Regions from separate parts of the Homo sapiens genome. Here region 2 is linked to region 1. Evidence: fine-mapped expression QTL. Tissue or cell type: whole blood. Region 1 holds a variant in brackets; the other region holds the start of a gene. All regions are shown on one strand. Distances are between the middles of the regions.

What was found. PIP is the estimated chance that this variant, and not a neighbour inherited with it, causes the effect.
Region 2: it holds the start of TMEM129, and the variant in region 1 is fine-mapped to the expression of TMEM129 in whole blood (TOPMed, PIP 0.99).

What each region holds. Positions count from the first base shown.
Region 1 is chr4:1,687,559-1,690,310 of GRCh38, forward strand. No RefSeq gene overlaps it. Among named protein-coding and RNA genes, the nearest start is that of FAM53A, 4.6 kb to the left of the region's middle. The variant C/T (reference allele first, on the strand shown) is at 1,440.
Region 2 is chr4:1,720,147-1,722,898 of GRCh38, forward strand. TMEM129 (transmembrane protein 129, E3 ubiquitin ligase) reads right to left here and starts at 1,177. Exons shown (of 4, transcript NM_001127266.2): 1 at 487-1,177. The coding sequence starts at 691. TACC3 (transforming acidic coiled-coil containing protein 3) reads left to right here and starts at 1,375. Exons shown (of 16, transcript NM_006342.3): 1 at 1,375-1,497. RefSeq lists enhancers at 28-127, 1,210-2,205 and silencers at 718-767, 778-1,587.

The sequences.
Region 1 (2,752 bases):
AGGATCAGGAATTAACAAAAAGGATCTGGAAGCCATCTTGGCAAAGATTTCACAAAAGTGGTTATGTGTGCAGAGGCTTTATGTTATTTTCTATACTCTTCTGTATACCTCATGTATCTTTCACAATTTAAAAAAATTAAAGGCAAGGTGGCTCACACCTATTTCCTTATAGTTTTTTTAATCTACTTGTTCTATCAATTACTGAGGGAGCAGTGTTGAAATCTCCGAATGTAATTGTGGATTTGTCTTTTTTTTTTTTTTTTTTTTTTTGATACAGAGTCTCGCTCTGTCGCCCAGGCTGGAGTACAGTGGTGCGATCTCAGCTCACTGCAAGCTCCGCCTCCCGGGTTCACGCCATTCTCCTGCCTCAGCCTCTGGAGTAGCTGGGACGACAGGCGCTCGCCACCACACCTGGCTAATTTTTGTATTTTTTTAGTAGAGACGGGGTTTCACCGTGTTAGCCAGGATGGTCTCGATCTCCTGACCTCGTGATCCGCCCGCCTTGGCCTCCCAAAGTGCTGGGATTACAGGTGTGAGCCACCGCGTCCGGACCTTTTCATTCTTTTAACGGTATTTGGCAGAACCAAAGTTTTTATTTATTTATTTTTTGAGACAGGGTCTCACTCTGTCACCCAGGATGGGATGCACTGGTGTGATCGTAGTTCACTGCAGCCTCAAACTCCTGAGCTTAAGGGATCCTCCCACCTCAGCCTCCGGAGTAGCTGGGACTACAGGTCTGTGCCACCATGCCCAGCTAATTTTTATTTATTTATTTATTTATTTTTGAGACGGACTTTCACTCTTGTTGCCCAGGCTGGAGTAGAATGGCGCGATCTCGGCTCACCACAACCTCCACCTCCCAGGTTCAAGCGATTCTCCTGCCTCATCCTCTTGAGTAGCTAGGATTACAGGCATGCACCACCACACCCGGCTAATTTTGCATACAGACGGGGTTTCTCCATGTTGGTCAGGCTGGTCTCAAACTCCTGACCTCAGGTGATCCGCCCGCCTCAGCCTCCCAAAGTCCTAGGATTACAGGCATGAGCCACTGTGCCCAACCAGGCTAATTTTATTTTTATTTTTTTAGACGGAGTTTCGGTCTTCTTGTCCCGGCTGGAGTGCAATGGCACGATCTTGGCTCACTGCAACCTCCAACTCCCGGGTTCAAGCAATTCTCCTGCCTCAGCCTTCCCAGTAGCTGGGATTACAAGCATGCGCCACCATGCCTAGCTAATTTTGTATTTTCAGTAGAGACGGGGTTTCTTCATGTTGGTCAAACTGGTCTCAAACTCCCAACCTCAGGTGATCTGCCCACCTTGGCCTCCCAAAGTGCTGGGATTACAGGCGTGAGCCACCGCACCTGGTCCAGCTAATTTTTAAAAATTTTTTTGTAGAGATGGGATCTTGCCATGTTGCCAGGGCTGATCTCAAACTCATGG[C/T]CTCAAGCCATCCTCCTACCTCAGCCTCCCAAAGTGCTGGGATTACAGGCATGAGCCACCATGCCTAGCCACAAGTTTTTAATTTTGATGAAGCCCAATTTGTCCATTTTTCCTGTTATGGATTGTGATTCTGCTGTCCAGTCTATAAACTCTGCCTAGCCCTAGATGCCAACAATTTTCTGCAAGTTTTATATTTTACACTTTACATTTAAGCCTGTGATCCATTTTGAGTTAATTTTTCTATAAGATGTGAGACTTAGGTTGAGGCTTGCATTTTTGCTCTTGGATTTTGCTCCAGCCAATCTAGCACATTTGTTGAAAATACCATCCTTCTCCACTGAATTTTTTTTTTTTTTTTTTTTTTTTTTTGAGACAGAGTCTCACTCATCACCCAGGCTGGAGTGCGGTGGCGCGATCTCAGCTCACTGCAAGCTCCACCTCCCGGGTTCACGCCATTCTCCTGCCTCAGCCTCCTGAGTAGCTGGGACTACAGGCACCCGCCACCATGCCCAGCTAATTTGTTGTATTTTTAGTAGAGACGGGGTTTCACTGTGTTAGCCATGATGGTCTCGATCTCCTGACCCCGTGATCTGCCTGTGTTGGCCTCCAAAAGTGCTGGGATTACAGGCGTGAGCCACCACGCCCGGCCTCTCCACTGAATTTCTTTTGCACCTTTGCAAAAGTCAGTTTGCCAGACTTTTGTGGGTCTATTTCTGGGTTCTGTGTCCTGCTCCACTGATCTGTCTATCCCTCCACCGACACCACAGTCCTGATGTCATATAACCCTTGAAAAAGATAAGCTCATTCTATTCACCTTGTTCTTTTTCAAAACTTTCAACTATTCTAGTTCCTTTACATTCGCATAAATTTTAGAACCATCATCTACAAAAAATATTGCTGAGATTTTGATAGGAATTCCATTGTAACTACATACATCCATTTAGAAGAACTGACAATTTTTTTTTTTTTTTTGAGACGGAGTCTCGCTTTGTCACGCAGACTTGAGTGTACTGGTGCAATCTCGGCACACTGCAACCTCCGCCTCCCAGGTTCAAGCGATTCTCCTGCCTCCGCTTCCTGAGTAGCTGGGACTACAGGCGCACACCACCATGCTCAGCTAATTTTTTGTATTTTTAGTAGAGACAGGGTTTCATCATCTTGGCCAGGCTGGTCTTGAACTCCTGACCTCAGGTGATCCACCTGTCTTGGCCTCCCAAAGTGCTGGGATTACAATGTAAGCCACTGCACCTGGCAAAAATTGTTTTTTTTTTTTTTTTTGAGATGGAGTTTTACTCTTGTTGTTCAGGCTGGAG
Region 2 (2,752 bases), 33 kb after region 1:
ACAGAGGCCCTCCCCAGCCTCTGCCCCTGTGGCGCCCCCAAACTGGAACTGCCTCCAAATCCGCCTGTTCTCTCCACACCCACCTTCCAAGGCCTAGTGCAGTGCCACCCTCCACACAGCCCCTCCGACCCCTTCCGTTGGACTCAATCAACAGTTGCCTTCTCCTGGCCACTGCCCCCAACCACGACAAGCAAGGGCTGCTTGGCCTTGCAACCCCCAGGCACGTGACGGTTCAGGACTTGGTGGGCCGGAGCATCCCTTGCCCAAGGTTCTGAACTTGGGTTCCCGTCACCTGCAAGTCAGTGCCGGCGGCGCCCCTAAGCGCGCTCAGCCCACGCCGCGGTCCCTCTGGATGAGGACCGGCGCCTCTCCCCAGCTGCGCCCAGGCGCTTTCGGGGCCTCGGGGAGCTGGCGGAGGCCTCCTCCTGACCTCCCAGCAAGCCCTGCGCAGGAGAGGATGCGGCCGGCCGGCCCGAGCAGCCTCACCGAGCGGCAGCAGCGAGTGGCACAACAGCGTGGCGGCCGTGCGGCGCAAGTGGAAGGGCACGAAGGCGGCGTCCTCGCTGCCCAGCCAGCCCGACAGCAGGTTCTGCACCGTGAGCCCCGCCGCGTGGAACTCGTTGGGCGTGAACACGAAGCACACGGCGAACACCAGATAGGCGAGAGTGAAGGTCACCTCGGGGCTGTCCATCGCGCAGCCGCCGGGAAGCTGTCGAGCTAGGCCCCCGCCCCGGCGCGCGGACGAGGCCGCAGCGCCCAGTCCCGGACCTGTCGGTTGCGGCGGCCGCCGCCCGGCCGCCCGCGGGGCACTCTAGGACATGGAGTCCCGCCGCCCGGCCGCCCGCGGGGCACTCTAGGACATGGAGTCCCGCCGCCCGGCCGCCCGCGGGGCACTCTAGGACATGGAGTCCCGCCGCCCGGCCGCCCGCGGGGCACTCTAGGGCATGGAGTCCCGCCGCTCGGCCGCTCGCGGGGCGCTCTGGGAGATGCAGTCCCCGTGCGGGTGCGGCCTCTCTTCTCGGCCGGCCCTGGAGGCGGCACCGCACCTGTGCATTGAGCACAGGTGGGGAAACTTAGGCCTGAGCGAGGCCCTGGCCATGAAGCCCCGCCCAGTAGCGTCAGTTGCGGAACTCGAAATTCATGGGGCGACTGCGAGCCCGGGGTCTCAGCTTCAGACACCCTGGCGTGCCCTCCACTCCGGAAACGGAACCGTCGGCGCCCGAGCGGGGGGTGGGGGGGGAGGGAGGGCGGAGCCGGCGAGGCACAGCTTCCCATTGGACGCCCGCCCTCCTGCGGTCCTGCCCCCGGCCGCGCGCTGATTGGCCGCGCGAAGGCAACCGTCGGCGTTTGAAACTCCGGCGCGCCGGCGGCCATCAAGGGCTAGAAGCGCGACGGCGGTAGCAGCTAGGCTTGGCCCCCGGCGTGGAGCAGACGCGGACCCCTCCTTCCTGGCGGCGGCGGCGCGGGCTCAGAGCCCGGCAACGGGCGGGCGGGCAGGTAGGAGAGCGGCTACACGGCGCGGGGAGGCTGGGGTCCTGGGGGCGCGAGGCCGTCCCGCCCCGCCCCGCCCTCGGCCCTCGCCCTCCCGCCCCGGCCGCCGCTTTCCCCGGGAAGCGTCCCCCACGGCTCCTCCTGGGGCCGCCGCCAGAACCTGTACCGCGCCCTGTCATGGGACCCGGCCCTAGACCGACCGCCGGGCTGGGCCCCCTGGATGGTGGCCAGGGGCGGCTAGAGCTGGGCCAAGACCGACGGCGGAGCGGGCGCCCCGAGGTGCTTTGCTCTCCTCGACCCTCTCCTGTCTCTCGGTCGCCCACCTTGGCTCTTTGTTGGCTCCCAGCACGCGGACCCTCCTGTTGTTCTTTGGTCCCTTCCGGCCTCCGTCCTGGGGCCAACTCCATCTAGGCCGCCTGCGGCGGACACCTGGGCCCCTACCGCTTCCCCGCACCTGCTGCGCCGCTCCACCTTCCCCCCGCACCGCATCCCTCTTGTGCACCAGAGTAGCACCAAAGCACCAGCCTGGGGCCGGTCCCTTCTCTGCCCAGAGCCCCTCCCGGGCCTCCATAGTCAGTAAAGGCCCCTCCTGACTAAGGCTGGGTCTGCTGCTCTCCCGAGCTCCTCCAGGCCGCCAGAAGGCTTCCTCCGAGTCACTTTCTCCCTGAGTTCGAGGCTTGCGGGTCCCCCAGCGATCCAGCACCCCTTCCCCTGCCCTGTACCCAGTTATTCAGGGCGAAAACCTAAGCGTCGTCCGTAAGTCCCATATGTGCCAGTGGCCAGGCCCGGGTCTGGTCTGGCATCTACTCCTTGGGCTCCAGAAGCCTGTGGTTTCCCTGCTTCCCTTCTGCTCTTAACCTCCCCACCCACACACAGCACCACAGTGGGCTTCTCAAGCTGCAGCACCGACCTGCCGGGGCTGCCCCCTCTCTCTTCTCCAGGACCCTCCCCAACTTTGCTCTTCTTCAAATCAAAGCCTCCCCAGGTCCCCCTCCACCACCAGGTGCCTGTGGGGTTCCTGCCCTGGTCGACACTCGGTTCTCTCTGGCAGCCTTTTTCCCTACGTCATTCCCTAGACTGGGAACGCTGTAGACAGAAAGGGTGGCAAGTGTGTGGGTGACCGGCGTGAGGACCTGGGCAGCCCTGGAACCTGGGACTGACTGGAGGCTCTGATGTGGAAGTTCCTTGGCACCTGTTGCTCAGCTCTGGGCTTCCCTTGTTTGCGCATCGTCTCCCAGCTCCTCCTCTGGGCCTTCACCCT